Linked DNA regions of Homo sapiens. The protein of the gene in region 1 purifies or fractionates together with the protein of each later gene. This does not show direct contact. Each region holds a gene or a part of one and is shown on either strand. Other genes may lie near its edges.

The links.
Region 2: the proteins of WDR43 (region 1) and WDR75 purify together in Homo sapiens (affinity purification with mass spectrometry; 2 studies listed by BioGRID and IntAct, with this or other methods). This does not show direct contact.

The regions. Positions count from the first base shown.
Region 1 is NC_000002.12:28,889,987-28,897,674, forward strand, and holds the start of WDR43 (WD repeat-containing protein 43), read left to right. Parts: upstream 1-4,680; 5' UTR 4,681-4,712; coding exon 4,713-4,937; intron 4,938-7,688. UniProt on the Homo sapiens protein: Ribosome biogenesis factor that coordinates hyperactive transcription and ribogenesis. Part of the small subunit (SSU) processome, first precursor of the small eukaryotic ribosomal subunit.
Region 2 is NC_000002.12:189,465,446-189,472,480, forward strand, and holds part of WDR75 (WD repeat-containing protein 75), read left to right. Parts: intron 1-979; coding exon 980-1,137; intron 1,138-2,022; coding exon 2,023-2,203; intron 2,204-3,029; coding exon 3,030-3,124; intron 3,125-3,898; coding exon 3,899-3,994; intron 3,995-4,630; coding exon 4,631-4,800; intron 4,801-5,373; coding exon 5,374-5,433; intron 5,434-7,035. UniProt on the Homo sapiens protein: Ribosome biogenesis factor. Part of the small subunit (SSU) processome, first precursor of the small eukaryotic ribosomal subunit.

The DNA of each region.
Region 1 (7,688 bases):
TTCCCCCTACATCTCTACTAAGAATGTTTTGTTGCTGTTGTTGTTTTGAGACAAGACCTTGCTTGGTTGCTCAGGCTGGAGTGGAGTAGCAAGATCACTGCTCACTGTAGCCGTTACCTCTCTGGCTCAGGCGATCCTCCCACCTCAGCCTCCCAAGTCGCTGGGACCACAGGCACACTCCATCACACCTGGCTAATTTTTAATTTTTCTGTAGAGATGGGGTTTCTCCATGTTGCTTGGGCTGGTCTCGAACTCCTGGACTTAAGTGATCCTCTTGCCTTGGCCTCCCAGAGTTCTAGGATTACAGGAGTGAGCTGCTGTGCCTGGCCTAAAAACGCTTTTGAAGGCACCAATGACCCTGATCTTCCCAGTCTACTAGTTAATTCTTAGTTTTCATCTTTGCTGCATTTGACGTGGCTTTATCATGTCTTGCTTCTGAAATTATAAAAATTTGGTTTCTGGGTCACCTCCTTCTCCTGGGTTTTCATTGTGCCTTGCTGTTATCTCTTCTCAATCTCTTCTGCAAAATCCTCTTCCTCTCCCTGACTTCTAAAGATTGGCACAGCTTGGGACTAAATTCTTTTCTACCTATACTAACACGCAACATGATCTTTCCAGTCCCGTGGTTTCATATAGCAGCTGTATGCTAATGCATCCCAAATTCATATCTCTAACTGTGATGTTTTCTCCAAATCCCAACTCATATATCTAACTGCTTATTGAACAACCCTACTTGAATGTATAGTAGGTATCTCAAACTTAACTGTCCAAAACTGATTACATTCTAGTCAGGGAAGTAGATAATAAACACATTTAAAAATGAATCTCTAGGCTGGGTGCAGTGGCTCACGCCTGTAATCCTAGCACTTTGGGAGGCTGAGGCAGGCGGATCACCGGAGGTCAGGAGTTCAAGACCAGCCTGGCCAACACGGTGAAACCCCGTCTCTACTAAAATGCAAAAATTAGCTGGGCATGATGGCGGGTGCCTGTAATCCCAGCTACTCGGGAGAGTGAGACGGTAGAATCACTTGAACCCAGGAGACGGCGGTTGCAGTGAGCAGAGATCGTGCCACTGCACTCCAGCCTGGGTTGCTGAGTGAGACTCCATCTAAGAAAAAGAAAAAAAAAAATCTTTATTTCAGCTAGTGCAAACTGCTACAAGGAGAAACAAAGCCAGAGAAGGGAAATGAGAGCTTAAGTATTCGAAGGAATTAGGCAAAGCCTCACTCTGGCTCTGCAAGGTCAGAAGGAAGGGCAGTCAGTGTGCAGAGAACAGCAAGTGCAAAGATTGATCTCCATTCCACCCAAAACTCTTTCCCCAATTTAGCTAATGGTATCACTATTCACTTATTTGCCCAGGCATCAGAGTCACTCTTCATTCATCTGTTTTCCTCACCCTTCACAGTCAATTCATTTAGCAATTCCTGTTGGCTCTAACTTCAGATTATATCTGGAATCTGATCATTTTTCGCTACCTTCATTGCTTTCATCAGAGTCCTACCAATCATTGTCCTTGTCCCGACTACTACTCCACAGCCTTCTACCTTGTCTTTCTGCTTTTATTCTTGCCTACAGACTTCATCTAGCAGCCAGGATGTCTTTCAATAATATAAATCAGATCATGTTATTTCATTGCTCAAAACTGCAGGGGGCCGGATGTGGTGGCTCACACCTGTAATCCCAGCACTTTGGGAGGCCAAGGCAGGAGGATTCCTTGAGTGCAGGAGTTCAAGATCAGCCTGGGCAACACAGAAAGACCCCACCTCTTAAAAAAAAACATTAAAATTCTCCAGTGGCTTATTTCTATCATACTTATAATAAAATCCAAATACTTCACTCTGATTTACAAGGTACTAAATAGTCTGGCTCCCTCTGAACTCAGCTGCTACCTTTGATTTTTCTAGTTGTCACTATCTACCCTAAGTTTCTCCAAAGCTTTTTCTTTCCACTAGTCAAGGTCTTTGTTGCCTCAGTCTTTGCACTTGCTATTCTCCCCAGGTTGACTGCTCTTCCTTCTGATATTGCATGGTCTGAGTGAGGCTGTCCCTAATTCCTTTCAATACTTAAACTCTTTTCCCTCCTCCGGCTTTATTTCTCTTTATAGCAGCTTGCACTAGCTGAAATAGAGTTTTCTTTGTTTGTTTATTATGTGCTTCCCTGATTAGAATGTCAGCTTCATGAAAGCAGGAATCTTGTCTCTCATGATCACTGGTAGATTCCTGGTACCCTAAAACAGTGCCTGGCACATAGCAGGCATTCAGTTTGTTTGAGTAACTGAATGAATCCAAGTGCCAAATTAGATGTCTCAAATTTAGCATTCCCAGACTAAAGACACTATCATCTTCTTGCACAAAAATCTTCCAGGATTCACTATCCTAAGTGAATTGGGTCACCAACCAGTCTCTCCCTGTAAAAGCTCAATGAGTAATCCTTGGCCGTTTCTCTATCTCTCCCTTGGCCACTTGAAATCCGGCTCATTGTACATAATAAACACTCTTGAAACTTCCTTGCATCGCTATTTCTCCAAGCCACTCACCATCATCTCCACCTGGGGTTTCGAGCCTCCAACCTAGCTTCCTTCTAATACATTCATTACACTGTCTCCATGTAATCTTTCTAAAATGCAAATATTGGTCAGGCACAGTGGTTCACGCCTATAATCCCAGAACTTTGGGAAGCTGAGGCGGGCAGATTACTTAAGGTCAGGAGTTCCAGACAAGCCTGGCCAACATGGTGAAACCCCATCTCTAATAAAAATACAAAAACTAGCCAGGCGTGGTGGCACACGCCTGTAATCCCAGCTACTTGGGAGGCTGAGGCAGGAGAATCACTTGAACCGGAAGGTGGAGGTTGCAGTGAGCTGAGATTGTGCCACTGCACTCCAGTCTGGGCAGAGTGAGACTCTGTCTCAAAACACAAAAACAAACAAGAAAACAATAAAATGCAAATCTTACCATGCTGCTCCGTAGCTGTAAAAGCTTGAGCCTTCCCATGGCCATGAGAGTGGTTTTTATCTTTCCTGGCAGGCAATAGGCTCTGTGTGGGCTGAACAGTACCTAGCATTCCTTGAATTAGAATGCATTGATTTGGTGAATATTTAGGAGAAATATAAAAATCTACCCTTTATTTTTTGGATACAGGATCTCACTATGTCACCCAGGGTAGAGTGCAGTGGAGCAGTCATAGCTCACTGTAGCCTCGACCTCGTGGGCTCAAGCCATCCTCCTCCCTCAGCCTCCAGACTATGGGCGTGTGCCTAAAAATGTCTATTTGATGTAGCAACATGAGATAAATCTGGAGAAACAGGAGGGAATAGTTGTTCCGATCATTACTTTTACATTATTATAACTGAATACATTGTTATTTTGTAAATGATTACAGCCTGGAATTGAATAGGGGGAAACGGAAGCAGTTGTTACAATCATTATCAATTTGAAAGTGAAGACTTCTTTTCTCTCTCTTTTTTTTTGAGACAGTCTCGCTCTGTCACCTAGACTGGAGTGCAGTGGCGTGGCGATTTCGGCTCACTGCAACCTCCACCTCCCGGGTTCAAGGAGTCTCCTGCCTCAGTCTCCCGAGTAGCTGGGACTACAGGCACACACCACCACACCCGGCTAATTTTAGTATTTTTAGTAGAGACAAGGTTTCGCCATTTTGCCTAGCTTGGTCTCGAACTCTGACCTCGGGCGATCTGCCCGCCTCGGCCTCCCAAAGTGGGATTATAGGTGTAAGCCACCGCGCTCGGCTGAAGATTTCCTTCAAACCTTTCGTTCTACCTTATCATTTTCTTTAAAGTTTTAAAAAATTGTTATTTATTTATTATTTATTTTTTTAAGACGGAGTTTCACTCTTGTTGCCCGGAGTATAATGGCGCGATCTCGGCTCACAGCAACCTCCATCTCCCGAGTTCAAGCGATTCTCCTGCCTCAGCCTCTCGAGTAGCTGGGATTACAGGCGTGCGCCACACGCCTGGCTATTTTTTTTTTTTTTTTTTTTTTTTTTTTTTTTTTGAGACGAGTCTCGCTCTGTCGCCCAGGCTGGAGTGCAGGGGCGCGATCTCGGCTCACTGCAATCTCCGCCTCCCGGGTTCAACCAATTCTCTGCCTCAGCCTCCCGAGTGGCTGGGATTACATACAGGTGCCAACCACCAAGCCCGGCTAATTTTTTTGTATTTTTAGTAGAGACGAGGTTTCATCATCTTGGCCAGGCTGGTCTTGAACTCCTGACCTTATGATCCACCCGCCTCGGCCTCCCAAAGTGCTAGGATTACAGGCGTGAGCCACCGCGCCCAGCCCACGGCTAATTTTTTTATTTTTAGTAGAGACGGGGGTTTCTACATGTTGGTCAGGCTGGTCTCGAACTCCGACCTCAGGGGATCCGCCCACTTCGGCCTCCCAAAGTGCTGTGATTACAGGCGTGAGCCACCGCGCCCGGCCCCCCCCCTTTTTTTTTTTTTTTAAAGGAACAGGACTTGATCTTAATTCTACAATTACTTTCTCCCATACTCCCACTCCCGCCCAGAACAAGATAGCGACAGGCCCTAGCGGGCCACCGTCCACAGGGCGGATCCGCCAGAAGCTCTCCTGCGACGCGAAGATCCACTCCCTGAGCCCCCGGCGCTCCCTCCGCCTCACTTCCTCCTCCAGGCTCCGCCCCGCGCCGGTGCGCCTGCGCACGGACGAACACGTGGCTGCAGCGGGGCCAGAGCAGCAATGGCGGCGGGCGGCGGCGGTAGCTGCGACCCCCTGGCCCCTGCTGGGGTCCCTTGCGCCTTCTCCCCGCACAGCCAGGCCTACTTCGCTTTGGCCTCTACCGACGGTCACTTACGAGTATGGGAGACGGCCAACAACCGGCTGCACCAGGAGTACGTGCCTTCCGCGCACCTCAGTGGTACCTGCACCTGTCTGGCCTGGGCGCCAGCGCGGCTGCAGGCCAAGGTAAAGCGAGCGGGACTGCGCGGGGCGGGCGCCTTCCCGGGCTCGGCTTCGGGCCTCCGGGCCGGGTGGCGCGTGGTCCGGCATCGCGCGTGGCTCTCAGCGGCCCGGGCCAGAAGGCTTGGAGGCGGCGTCGGCGCGTTCAGGGCCCAAGCCGCCAGCCCCGCGTGCGGCCTGCCGCGAGGGCAGTGAGGGAGGGCGCAGCTCGACCCGGCCGGCCTCGTATCCGAGCCCTGCCGGCTGGCCCAATGAGGCCTGGGCCCCACTGTTGACGGGCAGCCATGTTCGCCAAGTCCCCTGGTCCCCCTGGGGCGGCTTCCTTCTGCCGGGCCTTGGCTCATCAGAGTTCTGGTTTTTGACAGAGCCCCATCTTGGGACTATCTAACTTTCCTCTGTCTGTGATCCGGCTCATCAGTTTTGCACTGGGCAGTTGGTATGGACTAGTCTGTACTTGCTTCCGGACCTTCCCCCTCCTGCCCCCCCTTTGGGTGCCGGCTCACCACGTGTTCTCGTCCCCGTCCAGGTTGTGGGACTCTCAACTCTTAACTTTTGCCTTTCCCAGGCACCTCTACATTCTCAGCTTTTTGAACTCACTGCTTTTTGATTTTAACATCTGCTCGCCCCTCCCGCCCCGCTTTCAAGCCGATCACACTGCTCCCCACCCACCCCAATCTGAAGTCTGTATTAGGATGTGGAGGTTAAGTGAAGTAGTAGCTTGATTTAGTGAATGTTTTATGAGTGCAGATGAAATTACCCTTAGATGGAAAACTGCCGAGTTAGGCAGAGCTTTTCATTGTTAGGGACCCGTGTCAGGTAAATGCCTTTCACTGTTGAGTCACTCAGCTACATCTCTCTAACTCAGCATGCACGTGGTTATTGCGTTTACAGAGTAGCCAAACCGAATCACTGCAAAGTGATTTGGAAACATCAGGTATCCTGAGGTGTGTGATGTGAGCTGTTTCAATGTGGAGAACTGTAAAAGCTATTTAGGATCTTACTCTCTCTGACGACCTGGGAAGCCTGCTAAATTTTTGGGTTGGGAAAAGGGATACATATAAGTTGCTATACTTTGGGCATGTTTAGATATTTTTCAAATTTTAAGCTACATTTTCATAGTTTATCCTGTTGATTCATAAAATAAACCTATCAGGGCTTATAAGTCAAACATAAAACTAAAAAAAAAATCAGTTTTTATTGTTAAAATTACAGCGCTCTGCTTATCTTTTATTTTCAAAGTTTTCTGTGGTTGTATTTTAACAGTCCTGTAAAGTGATAGTAATACTAATGCTGAGAGAAATACGGAGCAGTGGTTAGGTAGGTGCGTGGACCCAAGCTGGCTATATTGTCTATATTTGATTCTAGCCTCTGCTTCATAGTGGTAATTGCCCCTCTGGTTCCTCATTTATGAAATGAGGATAATAATATCTTCTTCATAGAGTGGTTGTGAAGGTTAATATATTTAATAATGCAGAGAACACTTAGAATAGTTCTTGACAGGTAAGTGCTTTAAGTGTTAAGTATTATTAATATCTGATATTTGTGTGGTTAGTCCTGAAGTGTTGATAAGGAACTTTCTGCCTTGTTTCGGGGAAAGAAACAGAAACTCTGGGAAACTAAGCAACTTGAATAAAGTAAAAAATGGAACCAGGATTAGAACTCAGGTCCTTAAGAGCTCGGTTCTTGGTTATCTGCAACAGATAGTTAATATTAGGTTGGAAAAAATGTCACCCACTTTGCTTTTCTGTTGAGTTTCAGTTGCATTGTATGCCCAAGAGAAATTTCCTAATCTCATATTAAAAGTCATAGTTTTGGATTATGTGCAACACTATGGTAAACTAGAAAAATAACTGGATTTGGTTTCATAGCCCAGACTCAAAACTTACTTTGTCATATTGAGCAAGTTGTTTTAATTTTGAGGACCTCATTGACAAACGAGAGTTGAGCTACATTAAACAAAATTTTTTTCTAGGTTTCAGCATCGTTTTATCTGCACTGTCTCCTTTTAACCACATGACTATGGAATCCCCTGAAATTAATTGCATTTTAAAAAAACTGATTGAAAATCAGAGCTAAGAAAGGTAAATGACTTGACTCAAGCCTTAATAACCAATAAAGGAGTGTGGCCTCTAGAGTCATGGTGCCCCGAACTCCTGGTCAAGTGCCCCGATTTTGTTACTCTCAATCTTGAGTCACAGAACTGAGAGAGCTGGAAGGAATGTAGAGACATTCCCTACTTTGAGGGTGTGTCCTCTTGGAGCATCAGTTTGACTTATAAACTAAGGAGAGACAGTTTTCTTGTATTAAAACAAACTTGCACATATATTATGGTATAAAATTAAAAAGTCATATGTACTGTAACAAGATATCTTAGAAAAAAAAGGCACATGTTAAGGTGCTCTCATCTTATTAAACCCTTCCTTTTATTTTACATCTTTGAGGCTTAGTGTATGAGGCATGAAAAGGATGTTGCTCTGAACCCACTTTCCAGCATTTTGTTAAGGTCCTGCTATATGATGACATATAGTACTCTCAAATTTGAAATAGAGGTATCATCACCCACCTTTTAGGATCCTCAGGATCAAATTAGGCAATGTATGTGACTGGTGTAGTATGGCCTAGTATGTAATAAGTGGCTTAATAAATGTTATTATTGAGTGAATCTGGACTCGTTTTACCATTTAATTTGGCATTTAATATGGTAAATCAATTTGTAAGAAAAGTATTCTATGTTTGGTTTAGTAATTGGCAGTTTGC
Region 2 (7,035 bases), about 160 Mb from region 1:
TCATCTCATAATGAATAAAGAAACATGGAAAAGTGACACCTCCTCAAGGGCATAATACCGAATTCTAGGCAAATCCAGGGTTAGAATCCAAATGTTCCCTTGCTCTTCCGTTAACAGCATACTGCCTTTTGAAAAGAGGGAGTGTAGGTAGAAGTGTAGCATAGTATAATGTAGCATGGATGTTGTGATTAGATAAGGAATCCACTCTCGTACTGTGGCTATAATAACCACTTAACAGATCTTTGCTGTGTGCCAAGAACTTGGCTTAGAGCTTTGTACCCATTATCTTACTCTTCAAAAGAACACTGTAAGATAAGCCTGTTGTCTATATTTTATAGGTGAAGAAACAGGCCCAGAGAGATTAAGTGGTTGTCCCTAGTCACTGTTGTTATAACTTGTGCTTTTTTAAAATCACAATCCTATGCTGCCTTGATGTTCTTTTAAGAACACAGTCCTAGTTGTCTTTCATTCACAGCGTTGCCCTCTAAGCTCGAAATAAGCTTTAAGAAGTCATTTAGGTGACTAAAAATAGTAAATAATGACCAGCCAGTTTGACTAAGTAGTTTCCTGTCTATTTTTCCTTGCCCCAGGTGGGGCGTTTCACGGCCTTTCCATTTTTTATTTTCAAAAGTAGGCAGGAATCTGGGTTCTATACAAGTTTCCTACAGAGTTTGATACAGTAGGCTTTTGAGTATCATTGATTGGTGACCTGTATTATCCTCATTTTGTACCAATGTACTAGTGGGTTGACTACTACACAGAATGTTCTCTAAAGTCACACAAGGGCAAAGGTGATATATTAGAACTCTTTGCGTCCTGTGGCCATTAGAGGTAGAGCACTCAATTGTTTGTCATTCTACGTGATTATCAGTTGCCTGTTGTTCAAGATGCTATTGTAAAATGTACAGCATGTCAGAAATTCTTATATACATCACTTTGTCCTCATGCAAGAATAAATTTGTGGTTTCCTTCCCGCTAGGTTTATTCTTAACACTAAAATTAACATGCCACACGAAGACTGCATTACAGCTCTCTGTTTCTGTAATGCAGAAAAATCTGAACAGCCCACCTTGGTTACAGCTAGCAAAGATGGTTACTTCAAAGTATGGATATTAACAGATGACTCTGACATATACAGTAAGTTATTAAATATGTTATGTTTAAAGTGTGCACAATTTTAGGAATTAATTTCTTTTTCTCATGACTTGTATCCATCCTGGGAGGACATTTTCTACTTTATTGAATTCTACAGGATATTGCTTAATCTTAATAGATTTAAGAGATTACATTTTACATGCCTTTTTCCTCAAATCTGTTCTTTTTAAATGGCATTCTTGATTAATCATGTGCTGATTATTCTGTTTTTTTAGGGTAAAGTAAAAGGGGCTTTTACCAAGAGTCCTTTCACTCCTCCACTAGAGGGAGGTCAAGGTCTCCAGGAGAGGGCATAAATTTCAGAACAGTCAGTATTTTGTAGCAGTTCTGACTTAAAGAAGTTGTGGGGAACAGGTTTTCTTGTTTTGTGTCTTTGTTTCTTTTTTATTTTATTTGTTATTTGTGTGTGCATCTTTGTTTCTTAATCCCTACTGCTTATAATGTCCCTCATTTAGCAGTCTCCCTTTAACAGTGGGGGATACAATCCAAGACCCCCCCGCCCCAGTTGATGCCTGAAACTGCAGATAGTACCGAACCCTGTATATACTGTTTTTTTCCTATACATACATACCTGAGATAAAGTTTAATTTATAAATTAGGCACAGTAAGAGGTTAATAACTAATAATAGAATGATTACAATAATATACTGTAATAAAAAGTGAATATGTGCATGCTCTGTGTCTGCCTTTCTCTCTCTTTCAAAATATCTTTTTGTACTGTACACAGCTATTTTCAGACCTCAGTTGACCCCTAGGAACTGAAACCACAGAAAGTGAACCCTCAGATAATGGGAAACTAGGGGGAACTACTGTAGCATTCTCTAGCATTTACACAATTTCTGAACATTATGGCTTATATTTCCACAGAAAAAGCTGTTGGCTGGACCTGTGACTTTGTTGGTAGTTATCACAAGTATCAAGCAACTAACTGTTGTTTCTCCGAAGATGGTTCTTTACTAGCAGTTAGTTTTGAGGAAATAGTCACAATATGGGATTCTGTAACATGGGAACTTAAATGTACATTTTGCCAACGAGCTGGGAAAATAAGGTAGGTAAATCTTCGGGAAGTATGTAGTACTATTTTTTAACTTATTTAAACAAGTCTTAAAACTTTAGTAGTCATTTATGCCCTCTCCAAAAGTAGCCTGAAGGTCAGTGGGGCAAGCAGCTAATCAAAATGCTGGAAAGCCAAAAATTCTGAGTCCACAAACTGTGCCAACATTTCTGAAATTCAGGTTAACATTTAACTCTTGGCCTACATATTTTTTCTTTGGAATACTTTCATGGATGTGCTGAATGGTAACAGAAGCTATACATAAGCCTCAGGGGATCCAAACCTTCTTATTTTCTGTGTATTCCCATAAAAACCGTGTTATGCGCCAACCTCATTGTTTCCGAGAGGTGCAGGGGAAAGTAGCAGCAGCATTTTCAGGTCCTGCTTCAGGTAGTTGGGCCTGAGGACAGAATCAGATGCCTAATGAGATCGTCTCTAATTCCCAGCATGTCTGATTCTGAATTTACTTTGTAAAACTTTCTTCACAATTGAAATCGCAAGTTTTCTTCTTCTTGGTAAATAGGATTTTTGTCAGATGACTGTACGTTTCATGTACATTTTCTCTGTTAGATGTAAATTGGTATACCGCACAGTGTGTTAAAGAATTGGTCATCCGTTCTGTTTTCCTAAAGAAATAGCTAACTAGACCCTTCCTTTTGTACTCCTTAGACACTTTTTTCTTCAGGATAATTATAAACAAAAATATATATGTCTATATAAAAATCTGCATTACATAGAACAGCCGCTGGAAGCCTGCAGTTCTTTGTAACTGAATTTGCTAGAACTGACTGTTGCTAACTTCCTTGTGGTTTTAATCTAGGCACCTTTGCTTTGGGAGATTGACGTGTTCAAAGTATCTACTTGGTGCTACTGAAAATGGCATTCTTTGCTGTTGGAATCTGCTGAGCTGTGCATGTAAGATATTTTTTACTCTAAAGTGATCTGGCAAAGCGCATAAGGAGTTGACATTAAACTTTGGCATTTTAGGACTTAGGGATCATATCATCAGGTCTGTACTTGGAATAGTCAGTTTTTTACGTGACATATGATGCCACCAAAATTTGGAATACTGGGCCTGTAATAGACATTATTTATTAACTGCTTAATTGTTGGTACGTCAGCTTCCATTATCCTTACCTTTTTCTACTGTTTTCAGTGTGTGTGACTTTCTGATGCCCTCCATATTCCCCATCCTCGTAACAATTTGAATAATGTTTTCTGCTCATTTTTAATACTTACTAATCTACATTATCCCTGACAGCTTAAATTCAAATGTAGTCTATCACAGTCCTAACAAATGTGAACTTAGTGGCATTTTACCCATTTGAGTGTATGTTTGGAAGGCATAGTAGCTGCTTATAAATGAATGTGTATGGTAACTTTTTTCAGTATTCTTTACAGTTAACTCTGGTTAACATACTGTACACATTTAGCAGCATCAGAAAAGCACTAGACATAAATTTCAATGAAATAATAATCTTTTCATAGTTTGTACAAGGAGCACTACAGTTCCAGTATGTTTTTCTTTCGGCCTCTCACTTTAGTGCAGCATTCTACAAATCATTTCAGTGTGTCTCCATGTGTGTTAGTTGGAAGCATAAGATTCCTCTTCCTAAGAATAAGAGAAGTTTTTTAAAGCTTTTGGTAAATCTTTCCTTAGAAGTGAATCACCTTTGTTTTTCCCCTCAGTGGAGTGGAATGCAAAATTAAATGTTAGAGTTATGGAACCCGATCCTAATTCAGAGAATATTGCTGCAATCTCTCAGTCTTCAGTGGGTTCAGACTGTAAGTACAAACCACACTTTGTAGTAAGAGAACATCTATGACCTAAGTTTTCTTCTTAATATAATTTGAGCCAAACTTGCCTTCACATCAGATGTTAATTGGAAGCCATTTTGCTTGAGGCACGGCCCTTCTTTGCCCCAACACTTTGTCATTGTGTGCGTCCATACTTAGTTCTAGGAGAGCTCCAATATGTTTCTTATTTTTCCACAAGCCAATTCGTACTCAATCTTTAAAATTCAAGAGATTTCACCAGTTTGACATATTTCCAACTGCCCCTGAGAAGCTTTAATTGGTCATCCTCTATGTTCTTGAAGCAGTTTCTACATATCTCATTTCTAGTACTTACAGACAAAATACTACTGTAATAATATTTTGGTTTCTGTCTTCTGCAGTGGGCCCTGGCCTCTGGAGCACGAATTCTTCTTTCTGTTTTTCATCCTCATAGCCCTCATTCCTAACCTGCCTGGCCCATAGTAGGAACACAGTAGATACCTCTTGAATCAAAGCCTAAAACAGTCATGACTTGGGCCAGTTACTCAATGGGGTGAGTCCCAGGATTAGTGTGATCTGCCAGTCTGAGGCTAGAACTAACCTTTTCAGGCAAAATGTTATTGTTTCTTTGTTTTTTCCCTCTAGTGTTTGTATTTAAACCTAGTGAGCCAAGGCCATTGTATATTCAAAAGGGTATCTCCAGAGAGAAAGTCCAGTGGGGAGTGTTTGTTCCACGAGATGTCCCTGAATCCTTCACCTCAGAAGCTTACCAGTGGCTAAATAGATCCCAGTTTTACTTCCTAACAAAATCACAGGTAACTGCCTCCCTCAAAAAAGGCGATCACTTTGTACATGGAATTTTAGACTAATAGCCCATGACTATTGGTGTGAGTTTGTTTCTAGGTGAAACAGCTTCATTAAAGGATTATTTCCCAAAAAATTGTCTAATATGCTCAGTACAGCAGCATTATTAATGTAAATGTATTACCGTTTTACCCCACACTTTTGAGGTTCCTTAGGTATTGCTTGTATTAACTCTGTGACAGCAAAAAAGCAGAAGACAACTAAAATACTTTAAATTGCATGATTCTTTTTTCTTTTTCTTTTTTTTTTCAGTGTTTGATTTGCAATTTTTAAAATGGTGGCTTGAGTTTTGTCTGTCAGTTATATTTTTTATTCATTACCATTTCTTAAGTATCTCTCAGACATAATCTTGTAACTCTCATCGTGGTTATTAAATAGGTTTAAATCTTTTATTCCTTTTCTGTTGTCAAATATATATATCAAAGTGAAAAATTTGACCTTCTCATTTTTTAACACCCTGTAACACCTTGTTTAGATTTGCACTCTACAGTTTGTCTTTTGCATCATTAATTCTCTCTTTTCAGAGTTTATTGACATTCAGTACAAAGTCTCCAGAAGAAAAACTCACACCAACAAGCAAACAGGTATGTTTTAGCCATTCATAGCAGGATGTATTGCCTCCCTAAAAGGATACAATTACCTTTTAGAAGTCAACTATGAAAAAAATATTTCACTTGGCCCTAAAATAGAATTAAAAGCCATATACTTATAAACTGATATGTGTCTCTTGAAAGTTTTAGTGCTCTTTTAAAATTATTTTAATTTATAATATCAGTAATATATAATTCTGATTTAAAGAGTCAAATATTTTTACAAGGCTCTTCAGAAAAAACTTCTCCAACACCACTACCATTACCCACAAAGACAATCACTCTCAAATCTTTTAGCTGAAGTTTTTATTTAACTCTGAATCTCTAAGAAATCTCTAAGAAATGTTTATATTTCTAATTATAGGTTTTTCAGATTTAGGTATTATCTGTTAACTCTGATCTATTGACGCTGAATTTTTAGCTGTTTTTCACATCAGCACTCCCTGCATATACACAACACACACTTTCCCTACTTGTCCCCCAATTTTCCCCATATGGGTAAATGTTAAATTGGTTAGTTCAGTAGTCATTGTCATAGCTGTGTTAACACAATTCATAGCCAAGCCATGTAGTAATAGGCAGATTGTTTTTCCTTTTGTGACCAAGTTTTTATTTTCTGTGGAGTTAATGATTGCCTTGTTTTTTCATTTGCTTAGTTTTCTATTCTCATGTAATTCAACCCCAAATTCTGCTCAAGTTGTGTAAGTATTCTCTCAGTGTTTTCAGATACATTAGGTATTCTTTCAAGTCATAAAGGATTATTTCCAAGAGCCTTCTGACTGTCTTCAGTCTGGACTGATTGCTCTGGAAACCTGCTACACAGTAGTCATCCTAGGATCTATATTCACCATCATTCTGGGGATTTGTTTGACCTCTACTCTATTAGTGGTGTGGTTTTTCTCTTTCTTTGGTCACTCCCCTGTTTTGGTGAAGCATTCTTTTAGTGCATTGGAGGTCAATTTAAGACCTTGCATGTTTGGAAATGTTTTTATTCTCTTTCACTTGATTATTATAGAGTTGTAGGTTGAAAATCATTCTCGCAGAACTTTGACATTATTGTCCTATTATTTTATAATTTCCATTATTACTAGAAGACCAATACCATTCTTGTTCTTGTTCCTTTGTCTGTAACTTGGCTTGTTTATTTTCCTTTAAAACTCATTGGATTAATTCAATAATTTTTTGTTAATTATTTACTGTACGCCAGGGACCATTGTAGACAGTTGGGATACAGTAGTGAGAAAAGTAGTCAAGTCTCTAAACTTGCGGTATTCACAGTCCACCAGAAGATAGAGACAGTAAACAACATGCATTAAGTAAAATATGGAGTAGAGAAGGTGGTAAGAATTGTGGTGGGGTAGAGAATAGACGAAAAGATGGCATGCATGGGATGCAGCTTGTAATTTTAAACAGGGAAGTCTACGTAGGCCTTATTGAAAAGATTCTGACTTTTTCTCTGAGTTACATATAGGGCCCCTTGGAGAGTTTTGAGTAGAGAACTAAGGAGGAGCTAATTACTTCTTTCTCTATTCTTTTTCTAGAACTCCTATTATTTAGTGCTGGACTTTCTAGAATGGTTCTCTATTATTCTTATTG